Regions from separate parts of the Homo sapiens genome. Here all the other regions are linked to region 1. Evidence: fine-mapped expression QTL. A gene starts in region 1. Each other region holds a variant in brackets. All regions are shown on one strand. Distances are from middle to middle.

The links. PIP is the estimated chance that this variant, and not a neighbour inherited with it, causes the effect.
Region 2: its variant is the best candidate, but not a certain one, in a credible set for the expression of PIRAT1 in whole blood (INTERVAL, PIP 0.56).
Region 3: its variant is the best candidate, but not a certain one, in a credible set for the expression of PIRAT1 in whole blood (TOPMed, PIP 0.73).

What each region holds. Positions count from the first base shown.
Region 1 is chr2:37,873,689-37,877,929 of GRCh38, reverse strand. It overlaps PIRAT1 (PU.1 (SPI1) induced regulator of S100A8 and S100A9 alarmin transcription 1), which reads left to right and starts at 2,067. Exons shown (of 4, transcript NR_110012.1): 1 at 2,067-2,187.
Region 2 is chr2:37,776,961-37,781,201 of GRCh38, reverse strand. The region is part of intron 2 of LOC107985869 (a long non-coding RNA gene); the gene reads right to left. Among named protein-coding and RNA genes, the nearest start is that of PIRAT1, 97 kb to the left of the region's middle. The variant GTCTT/T (reference allele first, on the strand shown) is at 2,099.
Region 3 is chr2:37,758,566-37,762,806 of GRCh38, reverse strand. The region is part of intron 2 of LOC107985869 (a long non-coding RNA gene); the gene reads right to left. Among named protein-coding and RNA genes, the nearest start is that of CDC42EP3, 89 kb to the right of the region's middle. The variant G/T (reference allele first, on the strand shown) is at 1,837.

The DNA.
Region 1 (4,241 bases):
GCTGAAATTCACCCCATTTTTATCCTCTTCCAAAGTTAGTGCTCTTAAGAATTACATAAATAATTATATATTAAGTTCATTGTATTCTCCCTATAGGCTGCTTAAGAATACAATAATATAAGATAAAAATATGTGTACATGAACTTATATTTATCAGTAAGTACTGGGGTATAAAATTGTCTTTCCCTCTTTAAGCCCTAATGTTCATTGACGCGTTAACAATGAGTCACGATTTTATTTCTTGACAGTAGATGGCGCTGGTGATTGTCAAAAGAGACAGAGTCTCCCACACCCCTCTCCTTTCCTGAGCCATTGAAAAACAAAACAAAGAGCTGGTGGAAAAAAAACGCAAAAATTTTCATCGTAATGAAGGATTGAAATTAAAAATTTGGAACCGTCATGTGATTAAGCAGAACGTGTATATGATCCACACACTTTTATTTGGAACTCTAGGGAAAACCTCCTGAGCTATTTGTAAAATTTCATTCTCAGGATTAAAACAAAATATAGTAAAATTTGATTATCCAGACAAAAGATGGATTTATATTTCTCTATTAGACAGATTTTATTTCTGCACCTTAATTTTAGCAAGGGATGAATATTAAGACAACTATGAATTTAGTTGACAAAAAACTCACATATATCTGACTTCCAGAGTCCTGAAGGTGGTATAGAGGAGTATGGTAGTCAAGATAAAAACAAAACAAATTATTATATGACCTTTGAGTATATCACTTAATGTCTCAGGACAGAAGTTTTCTCATTTGTAAAACTGAAATATTTCTTGCCTAATTCACATGGCAGTTGCAAGGATCAAATACAGTAAAGTAGTATAAACACCTTGAGAATTGTCATGTTCTTTCCAAATATGCTTTTTTTCATCTTTACCATACAATCAACCCAACCACCTATAGGTAAAATCATAACACAAGGAAAATTGGAATTCAGAATAAAATACTTGAGCATTAAATTTCCTCATTGGTCCAAAAGCACTTTAATAGGCTTTGGTGAATTAGATTCGTGCAAGAAAAGGGACTAATGTATTTTCAACCATCAAAGGAGTGTTTAGCTTAATAATCAGCTACCCAGAAAATGAAACAGAAAAACACTTGAATCCAAAGCACCGAAGTGAACTGAAGCGGCCTCCACTGTCCTCCCCTAACTGTCCGCACGGCCTGTCCTCTGTAGGAGTGTCCTTGTGTACGTGTGGAGGTTGTGGACACACATGCCTAGGGTTACAGATGCTCTACAGACTTAACTCAGTATAGTGAAGCTGCAGAGATAGTCATAGCCCTAAAGAAGCCTATCTGAGAGCTTTCCTTTGGGTTTTACAAGAGGCATAGATATTTATTCTGCTCTTCTTTTAACAAAAGACTCCCAAATATTTGCTGAAGATGTAGAGTATTGCCATTTCTGCTTCAAAAGCTCTGAGCCTCTCACGGCACCTGTTGCTGCTGCCCCAAGAGCGGAACACACCCTCCACACCAGCAGCCCCAGGACTAGATTCAGCTTCTCAGTGAACCACTTCCATGCTCCACGATGTGCTCTGGGCTTTGGGGACTTAAAACATCGCAGCCGCGGCATAACAGAGATGCGTCAGCTTCTAAAGTCGTAGTGGGCAGTTCTAGAAACCTGACCCTTTCTTCTGCTGCTACAGATTCTATTGGCTTCTGGAGATTCAGAGACGTCCTTCCTCAAGAAGGAACCTCTGCCTGGCCTTCAGCAGGGCCACTGTCATGTGCGATATTCACTTAGAGCCTTATCACATTTGTGGCTGTAGAGGTGTTTGCGTGCCTTGTTTAATTTATCCCACTAGACTGTAAGTTCAGGGCAGATGGGGGATGTCTGGTTTTTGTTTTTTTTTTTTTTGCCTAATACTGTGTCCCCATGCTGGGCACAGACCTAGCACAGAGTAGGTGCTTGGCAAAGAGCTTTTGAATGAATGAATGATTGGCTGTAGTCTTCCTGGGAAAGGGCTGGCAGGCAAGGAAGTGTTAAACCAGCCACTAACCGCCCAGGCTGACCAGCCTTCTCCCTATCTCCCAGGCCTTTCGAACGGAGCCCGGGGAGGACAGGCTGGCAGAGGAGGGAGGAGGGTTTCTAGCTGAGAGAGACTGCGGCTGTGGGCCTGCAGCCTACCCCTCTTCAAGCTCTCCGGAGCCGTTCCTGCGAAACCAGCCCCCACAAGTGAGTGTCTGCGGCCCCCTCCCTCCTCTTTCCCTTATTGCTCCCTGTGGGGATGGGGCTGACACCGAGCTTGATCCTAAGTAAAAGTCTGTTCTAACAGGAAGCAAATAATGTTCCTCCCCTGACGGAGGTGTTTCCTTCTCAAAGAAGTTACAAAGGGCTCTTTTCAGAGAGAAAGGGGCTGGGAATAGTGTGTGGCCTCACTGCCGTCTGCCTTGGGTGGAGCCAGCACGTTCTGGAATCCAGGGGCTTCCTCTTCTAAAGAGGCGCCGGGCCATGCACTGAAACGGGGTGGCCCATCCTCTGGGAGCCCCAGTCCCCTTACCTGCTTGATACAAGCATCCTCTGGAAGTGCCTAGGGTCATTGCCAAGGCCCCTGTTTTCTTTTCTTGGCTTCCAGGACGCCGTAGTCTGTGTTCTTCCTCCCGCCCTGCAGTTCCCTAGCTGGATTCTCTTCCTCGCTGTGATCTCTTCATCCCTGGTTCCCCAGCGCTCTGTCCTGAGCCCCCTTCTCGAACCACACTCTCGTCTGAGTGAGCATATTGAGCTTCATGGCTGTACATTTCCTCCCCGTGCCGAGGAATCCCACACACTTAGTTCCAGCGCCCAGCTCGCCCCCACCTCATCCAGGTCCTTACATCCCCCTGCAGACTCTGTCTCCACTCCACCTCATTGGTGTTTCCCACTCACTAGATCTAAAGCCAAACTCTTGATCCTGACTTCTCCACCCACCAGCTTGCCTTTCTCTTCATCTTCCCCATCTCAGAGAGCGGCTCGGTCCCGAACTGTCTCTTTCCTTCACACCCTTCATCTAACACACAGCAAGGCTTCTCAGCTCTACCTTCAAAATCTACTCCTCATCTTTCTTCTTCCCACCACCGCCACTCAAACGCCCTCGGCCTAGAGGGATCAGACCCATACTACCTGGCTCCTGAACCTCTGCAAGAGTCTCTGATCTTTCTGCTTCCACTCCTGTCTTGCTACAGACTATTCTTCTGACAGCAGCCGGGGTGATCTTTTCAACTACCAGACCGTGTCACCTTGCTTAAAACCAGCTGGGGCTTCCCTCACACGCAGCATGACACTCAAACTCCACACGACAATCTAACCAGCCTCACCAACTGTGGCCCTGGCTTGTCCTTCTGACTTAGCTTCTGTCTCAGCTCAGGCTACACTGGCCTTCTTGGTATTCCTCAGCCCCCCAGCTTGTCACTGCCCAGCCTTTGCACTGTGTCCTCTCTCTGGAGTTCTTTCCCTCAGGTCTTCAGGTGGCCTTGCTCTCGGGCTTTCTGGAGAGACTTAAAAGCCATATCCATGGAGAGGCTGAGTTTGGCCACCTACCTAAGGTAGCCTCTCATCACTCTCCATGCCTTCGTCTGGCTTTCCTTTTGATTGAGCACTTGTTACTACTTGTGTTCAGCTCTTAGATGAGGGCACAAGGAACTCTGGCGGGTTTAAGTAGAAGAAGGATTTATGTGTAGACTTTGACAGCTCCAGGAATGTTTGGGAAGGCTTAGTGGTTTATAGCCAAGAAGAGTGCACGCATTGCACGAATTGGTGGGATCTCTGCTGCCCCAGCTGCCACTGGTTATGTCACCAATGCTACCGTCCCAGATACTAACACTGCTGGAACCCGCTGTCACCAGCACCCTTGGAATCCCCATCTTTCTGCAGCTGCTGCCATCTCCTATGAGGGCTTTCTCAGTCTCTTTGTCCTTGAGTCATTGGTTCCTAACTCAAATTGTGGGCCAGTGTGTCTGGCTGGTGGAGCCTTGGCCACAGGCCTTGGCTCCTTCTACAAGAGAGGCTGATAAAACCACTATCAGGCATTTTCAAATTCTATGTAATGGACCATGGGCTCTGCTTATCCACCAGATTCCATGAGGTAGGGAATCTCAAACATAGGATGGAGGTTCAGATTCTGGGTAACCAAAAAACAACGATAAGCATGCCCTTGACTAGCTGGCTTTCTAGTATATATTTACGTGTTTATGTGTCTATTGCCTAGCTACTACATTAGAATGAAAGCTAGATGAGGTCAGGCACTTTGTCTT
Region 2 (4,241 bases), 97 kb after region 1:
TGTGCATGGAACATGTGGTTAAATAAGGGAAATGCCTGTCAATAAAGAGTGGCCATCTCCCCTGAAAGCCGTGCAGACCCAACACGGTAGCCAAGGGCCACTATTCATTGCTCTCTCACCCGAGAGGTCTCTTGAAGAAGGATGCAGAGTTGGACCTCGAAATCAGTCATTCAACACACGTCTAAATATTTTCTAGCAAGGTAAACACTCTCTCAGGCATCTTACCTTCATATAGCTTCATTGCATGATAAAGTGATTCTATCTCAGGAAAAAAAAAATCATGGATAAAAAGAGAGACTTGCATGTTTAGACTCTTGTCATTAACAATGCACACAAAGAGCTACTGTGATCACCGGTGTTACCTGGACCAAAAAGGGGTAAAGAGGGCTGAAGTGTTTTATGAGTTAGCCCATTCCTTGATAACTTCAGCTTTTAAGTTTTGCCAGCTGCTGCCAAGCTGGAAAATTAGATGCATTGTATTTCATTATGTTTCATTCATTAATTCAACCAATGTTGCTTGGGCACCCTCTAATGAACTTAATGAGTGTGGCCAGGTTGTGTGAGTAAGGCAAAGATGAATTCCCTGCCCTGGGGAGCTTGCAGTCTGGTAGGAGACAGAAGTACCCCAAACGAAGGTTCTAGAAAAGCAGGGCCAAACACAAAGTACTAGCTGCTGTCCAGGAGTGGAGTGGAGTCTGGACCGGAAGATGATGACAGTATTTGAGTCAGGTTTTACCAAAATACTTGTATTACTGGTAAGCTCAGTGTGCATTCTCTGGCTAAGCCCTGAGAGGTAGGGAACTGGAGTCCTGTGAAAGAACCTGCTTCCCTGCCACTGGGGCCCTGCACCTCCCTGGTCTCTAGCAGATGCTGCCTCTCCATTCAGCACAGAAATGGGAAGCCTACCCCTCTCCACCAGATCTCACAAGACCCCTCATCAGTAGGGCCCCTTCAGCCTCTGACTCACCCATTCCAGTGCTCAGTCTGAGGTGCCTGTGGGAAGAAAAGACCCATGGCTGGGTGGGTGCCTATCCTCTCTCTCTAGACTCAACACCACCTGCCTAAGCACAGACTCTTCCTTGATCTAAAACAAAAAGCCCCCATGTACATCCATTCTTTGAAACAATGCCTGGGGCTAGGGAAATGATCTCCCCTAGAGTGACTGTAATTCATCATTCCAAACTGAGAAACTGTAGAGAGTGGCAAATGCAAGCCGGAAGGGACTCTAGAACCATAGTCCTAAGCCAGGACCATCCCAGGAAAACAGATCTTGCAACCATTCTTGTTCCCAATTACATCCAGTCTCTGCTGGCCCTGCCACAGGCTCTGGGGACTCAGTGCTTTATGGGTGCTGCATTTACATTTGCTGGCCAAGAGATGCAAAATAAAACCATGGTCAAATTTCAATTGCCTGCCTGGAAATATAAGACCAGTACCCAGGAAGTGGAATAAAGAGCTGGTTTAGGGGTTTGAACTTCCACCAAATTGACTCAACCACCATGTAACCGGAGGCCCCAGTTTTTGGGACATAGCTGTCTATAGTCTGATTGGTGGCATTTTTCAGGCAGAATAAGGAAATTATATCAGTCAAGAATGCATTTGTCCTAATTTGTACTGATTTGCTGCTGCCCGTTCAAAGGATCTTATTTAAGACCAGAGTAATTTGTTTTCTGTGCTGCCTTGAACAAAACTCCTCCCTGCACTTGAGCGTATAATATTTGTAGACATTTGTCTTCAGGCTAGTGCAGTAATCTTCCTTGTATGCAACTGGGTTTTCTCTGAAAAGACAGTTGTTTAAAGTTCAGCCCAACGTTTATTGACTTTTTTTGTGCTTGTATCTACAGAGAAATCATAGTCACTGGTTTGAACGGACTAATCAAGACCTATGAACTGCTGTCTGCACTAATATCCACTTTCCCAGAGATCAAAGCCACGTGGCTGGGGAGACAGACTTTCAGCTGCTTTTCTTGCATCCTTTTCTGATCAGAGTGATTTATCACTTGAATGCCATCATCGGGTCACAGGCTTTTTACTTCAGATATTTGGTATCAGACTGTTGAGTATCAGATGATTTAGCATTTGAGTTTATGCTTAATCT[GTCTT/T]ATAAACAACCCTGTGATTTAAAAGAAAATGAAAGCCTCTTCTATGAGGAAAGCCTTGTCTATGGGACTCTAAGAAATGGGAGGAGGCAATATTTAGGAAATCCAGTAGGCCTCATTTAATCTCTCCTTCCTTTAACCCAGGGATAGAACAGCATGTTGTGATGAGGACATTCTATCCCTGAGCCAGGATGAAATGGTGCAGGATGAGGGCATTGTTCCTCACTGTGCAGGAAGGAAGAACAGGGATCATTTGCCTCCATTTTTCAGAGATTCCTGGCTCCTCTTGACCCTGAACTCCCCATTGTATTTTTGGGAAGAATACCCACAGTACTTCCACAGACAGAAAAACCTCGAGGGCAAAGCCCAAACGTTATGGTTGCTATGATCTCTCTACTAACCTCAAAGAATAAACTACAACATTCTAAGCATATGGATCTCTATGTGGCCCCTGCCAGGAAAATTGTCTGTTCTGAATCTGGTACCAGCCCTTCAAATCCAGAAAAGCTAGGTCCTAAGGTGGTGCTGAGCATGTAGAAGAAGGGTTGCAAACCAGCTTTCCTAGTTGCAATGACCACAGATCCTAGGGACCTCTTCAGTGTTAAGTTTCTCCCCAGACCCCACTGCTGCCCTGGGGGTTTGCCGGATATCGCTTCTTGCATCGAGGGCTGCCTTCTCTCACATTTGCCCTGCCATTTGATGTCCCAAATCTTGAACAGGCCTGCCTGGCCTCACCTTGATAGCACCTTCACCATAGTAAGTATTCAGTATCTGGATTGGCAGACCACCAGGCGGACCCAGTGAGATTGACTGGTACCCAGTAGCAGCTCAATCCATACTCCATGAATGAATGAATGAATGAATGAGGATTGAAGGAAGTATGAAATTCCAGCCATGCTTCCCAGGGGAGGGTCTGCAGCCCTGACTCAGACAGAGACGGTAACAGGAGCAGTTTGAACCACCCATCACCACTCCAGCCTGGAGGCTCTATGGGAAGAGACCAGGAGCAAGGGAGAAAGAGTAGGCCCTTGCTCTGGACAGATCCTCTAGTGCTGCTGCTGTAGGGCCAGAGTAAGGACCCCTTGTGAGGATGAGAAAGGAAGAAGTGTCTCCTCCACAACCCGGGCTAAGTCCAAGCAACCTCTGCATTTCTTCATTCAGAACCTTTGCTCAGCCTAGGATGTGTTGAGGACATAATGAAGTGATGAGTGCTCCCCTGACTCTCAGGGGTCCCAAAGGGGTCATCTGTGGTTTGATGATCCTCCTGGCTAAATGGTTCCTACAGCTGTTGCTTAGGTTCAGAAGAAAAGCGGCTTCCACATACCCATACCTCATCTGCTAGAATTAACAACATTAAAAGATAAGGCTAGTGATGTCGCAGCCTCCGGACAGATCATCCCGGTCAGTCTACCTTAAAGATGGAACTTCATGGAAATGAAGGGGTGGAGAGGAGTTGTATGAAACCAGACATCTTCTGAATTCTGCAGAAAATGCTACGGCCAGATTCACCGTACAGAGTCTGATAAATGCCAGAGGTGAGAGGGGGGTTTGGATGTGGTCACAGTCAGTCATAGGGCTGCAATATAGCCCCTATGTCTCTGGCTTTTTTAAAGGTTAATTCACAAAACAAAAAGTCCAGAAGTGTGCCTGGTAATGACAGGAGCTCAGTAAATAGTTGTTGATGGAGTGACCCAGCATGTCTCTAGCTGCCCGTGTACTGGCTGTGTAGAGCCATTTTCCTGGAGGCCGAGGCAGATCTGAACCATGACTTGAATCCACGCAGGTGGTGATGTACACATGGCAGCCTTTCCATTCCACTCATCCATAGCCTGTGTTGGCCAGAAGAGAAGCTCTGAATAGTAACTTCTCTATATTTTTGCTGTTAAAAATAACAAACTCTGGGCACTAGATCAGGAGCTATTTCTTTCCTTGTAGACAAGTAGGTCCTGCATGGAGAAGCAAGTCTCTTCTGCCCAGAGGATCCATAGTCAAATGCTTGCAGGGGAGATTATATTCTAGAAGCTCTGAAATAGTCAGAAATGCCCCCAGCCTCTCTGAGGGAGGGATTCATTCCAACCCAAAAGGATGTCTCTATACAGGCTCGTGTGAGCACAGGGTAGCTAAAGGTGCCTTGGGCAGCAA
Region 3 (4,241 bases), 120 kb after region 1:
ACCAAATCTACTCTTTTCCTTATTCTGGAACTGTATATCACACCGCAATTTTTGTCATTGGAAAGGTTGGTAATTTGGAAAATGCAATTTTCCTCCACTTTCTCTGCCTTGGTCATTCCCACAGCAAGGAGAATGAATATTGGATAAAAATCGGGTACCACTCTGGTTCCTCTGCTTTTCTGCCTGCCATGTTCTGTGGTATCAAGTTGAGCCTAAAGGAAGAGTCCTCTTCTGCCATGGCCCCAGTACCCCTGGATCTTACCTCCCTTGAAGAATCACTGGATGGCATTTCAGGGTAATCTCACTTTCTTTTGGGGAAATGTCCCTCTTGCCCAAGGTCTGAGGATATGTTGTTAGTTTTTAGTGTTCTTCCTCATTTTGGTCCAGATTTCACAGCATTTGGCAGGTTTGCTACATAGTTTGTGGTTTAAGATTGCAGTCGTATCCTTATTTCATTGGCAACTAAAATATTTTTCTGTTTTTAGTTTGAGATTTTTCAAGAAGGGGAGGGTAAGAATTAATGCCTATACACCGTGATCCTTAACCAGAAGTCATTTTGTGCTCTTTCAACTGCATTCTGCAAATTTGTATTCCACAGTGCAGGAAAGATCGTAAGTGCCATTCACCCACCAGGTTTCAGACTTAGGTCTGAATTCTTATAAAGCTTATTTAAATTTTTGTTTCATAGCTTTGCATCTATCACTTTTCTTCTCCATTCTCTTTGACCTACCTCCAGTCTCCAGAATTTTGTGTTTGTTTTGTTTCATTTTGCCTTTCAGTGTACCTGCAATATTCTGTTTCCCTCTTTGTGGCAAGAACTTTCTTAGTTCTTCATATCTTTAGCTCCTCTAAGTTAAGCTGCAAAATTGTCTGGCCTCAAACAAGTAGTGGGTTGATAAGAACCACTACCACTGCAGTCACCACACTTATCCTCACCTCTGTTAATCAAATATTTACTGTATGCCAGTAATGCCACTAAAGCTTGTCCATCTCCTGTCTCTATCTCCTTACCACATTTTATTTTTCTGGAGAATAGTATTTACTACTACCAAATATAATATTATGCATTTATTTTTAGTCTAGCTCTTCTAGTAGGATGAAGCTTCACAAGGACAGGGATTTTATCCGTCTTATTCACTACTGTATCCATGGTGCCCAGTACAGAGTTGTGTCATCCTTCCAATAACCCAAAAAAGCCAATATAATTGCCTGCAATTGAAATGCAAAGATGTGAAAAATACCTTTTACTAAAACTGGCTCCAGAATTATGTTGAGGGTTGCCACTGTATTTGTTCAAGAAAATACTTTGAAAGATATTTTGGGGGTGGTTGAGATTTTGTGATGTCAAAAGAGATGGGGGCAGGAGAAAAGAGAAAAAGTTGTTGTTTTGTTATTGGAAGGAAAAGGTGAGAGAAATAAAAGAAGAGGAGAGGGAGCCAGAAAGTTAGAGGCTAGCCCTGAGAAAGAGCCAAAGAATTCCTAGCACTGCTGTATGGGAGCCGTCAGCCCTGTACCTCCTGTACAGGTTGGCTGTTTTCCTCTCAGGTCTCTCTTCAGCCCCAAATCTTCAGCTCATCTGCTATGCACACAAGTCCTAGGAGGGGGTTTCTGTGGTTCTTATAAAAGGGTCTGGGTTTCCCATTGCAGTCAAAGCCTCAAGAGACAAAACTGTATATATGGGATCGGGAACTGGGAAATCTTTGAGAGGCAGGGGTTTGGGCCTTTTTTTTTTTTTTTTTTTTTTGAGACGGAGTCTCACCCTGTCACCAGGCTAGAGTGCAGTGGTGCGATCTTAGCTCACTGCAACCTTCACCTGCCTCCCGGGTTCAAACAATT[G/T]TCCTTCCTCAGCCTCTCGAGCAGCTGGGATTACAGGTGCGCACCACCACTCCCAGCTGATTTTTGTATTTTTAGTAGAGACAGGGCTTCACCACATTCACCAGGCTGGTCTCGAACCCCTGACCTCAAGTGATCTGCCTGCTTGGGCTTCTCAAAGTGCTAGGATTACAGGCGCTAGTCACCTCGCCCAGCCAGACTTTTATTGGCTACAGGATTGTAGTGAGGGTGATGGTTGGGGAGATGCATTAGTGCAATATTTCCCTAATTTGAGAGCGGAAGAGGCCACAGTTGACATCTGAGTTTTATGTAGGTAAGGAAAATGAGAGTCAGAGAAATTACACTACTTTCTTAAGGGAACTTAACATATAGAATGACTTCTTGCTATTTAATGAACACACCCAGTTCCTTTCCGCTCAGGAGATTTCCTCTTACTACGCCTGCAATCCAGAATGTTTTCCCCCAGATCTCTGCATTGCCAGCTCCTTCTTACCTTTAAAATCATCTCCCCAGAGATACTTCCATTTCCTATAAAAACAGTCACCATGATACCTACCCCTGACACACACTCAATCTCTATCTCCTTACCACATTTTATTTTTCTGGAGAATAGTATTTATTACTATCAAATATAATATTATGCATTTATTTTTAGTCTAGCTCTTCTAGTAGGATGTAGCTTCACAAGGACAGGGATTTTGTCCGTCTTATTCACTACTATATCCATGGTGCCCAGTGCAGAGTTTACAACATTTAGATGGTACTCAATAAAGATTTGATAACTATCCTCAATAAAAATGTATTGCCCTTCTATGATACAGGGTATAGTCTCTTGACTTTGTAATTTCAACATTCAAATACAACCCAGTCCACTCTTTTCTAAGCTAGTCATGTAAACCACCTGTTTTCTTCAGAACTGAGACACTTATGCATTATACCTGTTCTCACCAACAGCTGTGTCTGCTTATTGGCTTACTTTGAAGACAACTTTAAGGAGCTCTTGTTAAGAACCACTGCTACTTCAGTCAAATACTGGTTATCTCAGAAATGGTCTTTTCTCCTGTAGAGAGCTCAGAGCCACTAAGCAGGCCTTCTAAAGGTTCCTTCATCAGGGCTAAGGGAGCAGTGATTCTGAGAACACAGCAGTGTAGGGAAGTGCTTGGAGGGTCTCTGCATCCAGCTGGGTCAAATCTCAGCCCCGTGACCTAGGCAGTCACAGGATCTTCCTTGAAGGTCAGTTATGAAGAAAAACTTGTCAAGACCATGGTGAAAACAGCATAGCAAGGGCAGAGGATCCAAGTAGAACACCTGGTGAGCTGACCAGCTGAGAAGGGACTCCTGATCGGAGTTTTAATGAAAAACCAAAGCATGCATTGAGGGAACAGATGGCAGTCTTGATGGACAAGGAAAGGAATTCAGATTGGACACTGAAAGCCATGGTGGACTATAGAAAGCATTCATTCCACAGGCGGAGTAACCTAGGCTGAGCCAGGTCCCTGTCCACACTTGTTAGGTGGGTAAACTCAAGCCAGCTTCATCCTATCTGAACGCATGTTCTCATCTGTTCATTGTGATGCTGGTAATCAAAACCTATAGATTCAAGGAAAGGCTAAACAATGACAAGTAATGTTTGTGAAATGATTCTAAATTATAAAGAACTTTCCTAATGCATATTGCTGATGTCTGGGGCCAGTAACCTGGTGGTGCAATAAAGAGCTCCAGGCCGGATTAGAAAGACCAGGGCTTGAATGCCTGCCCTGCCACCTATTAACTTTATGGCCTTGGGCTGATTATTCCCTCTGAGACTTGCTCTTTCATCTGTAAAAGGGAAATGGATACTTGTGAGGATTCGCTTATATCTAAAGAGACTAGTCAAGCACCTAGCACATCATCTCCACCACCACCACCATTGTCATCATGGCCAAGGTTAGTTTAAGCACTCACTGTCTGCTGCATTGTTCTAAGAGATTCAGGTGCATGTAGGTAGATATTGTTATTCTGAGGCCTAGGGAGGTTAAGTAATTTACCCGAAGTCACAGATAGGAGTGGTAGAGCTTGGATTAGGACCCAAACAGTTAAGCACAGCACATGGGGGTAGTTTTTGACAATAGTGCAAATCTGCTACCAACGTAGGCCAATTTTTAGAAAGTCCCTTTGTGAAATAACAGACTGTCAGAAGAATTCATGGTTTCTAAAGAATTTGATCATGGAAAAGAGAAATCCCTTAGAATGGTCCCTAGATCCTTATCACCTGCTATTTAAAAAAAGAGTTGATTCTGCTAGAGAATATGTAATTGATTCCACTTCCAGGAAGAAAGGATGTTGAATTAACAATGGAAACTGAAATCCCTACCTCTGAGCTCTTCTCCCCTACTTGTAAAATCCCTGAAAACAATCCTGGTCAGCTT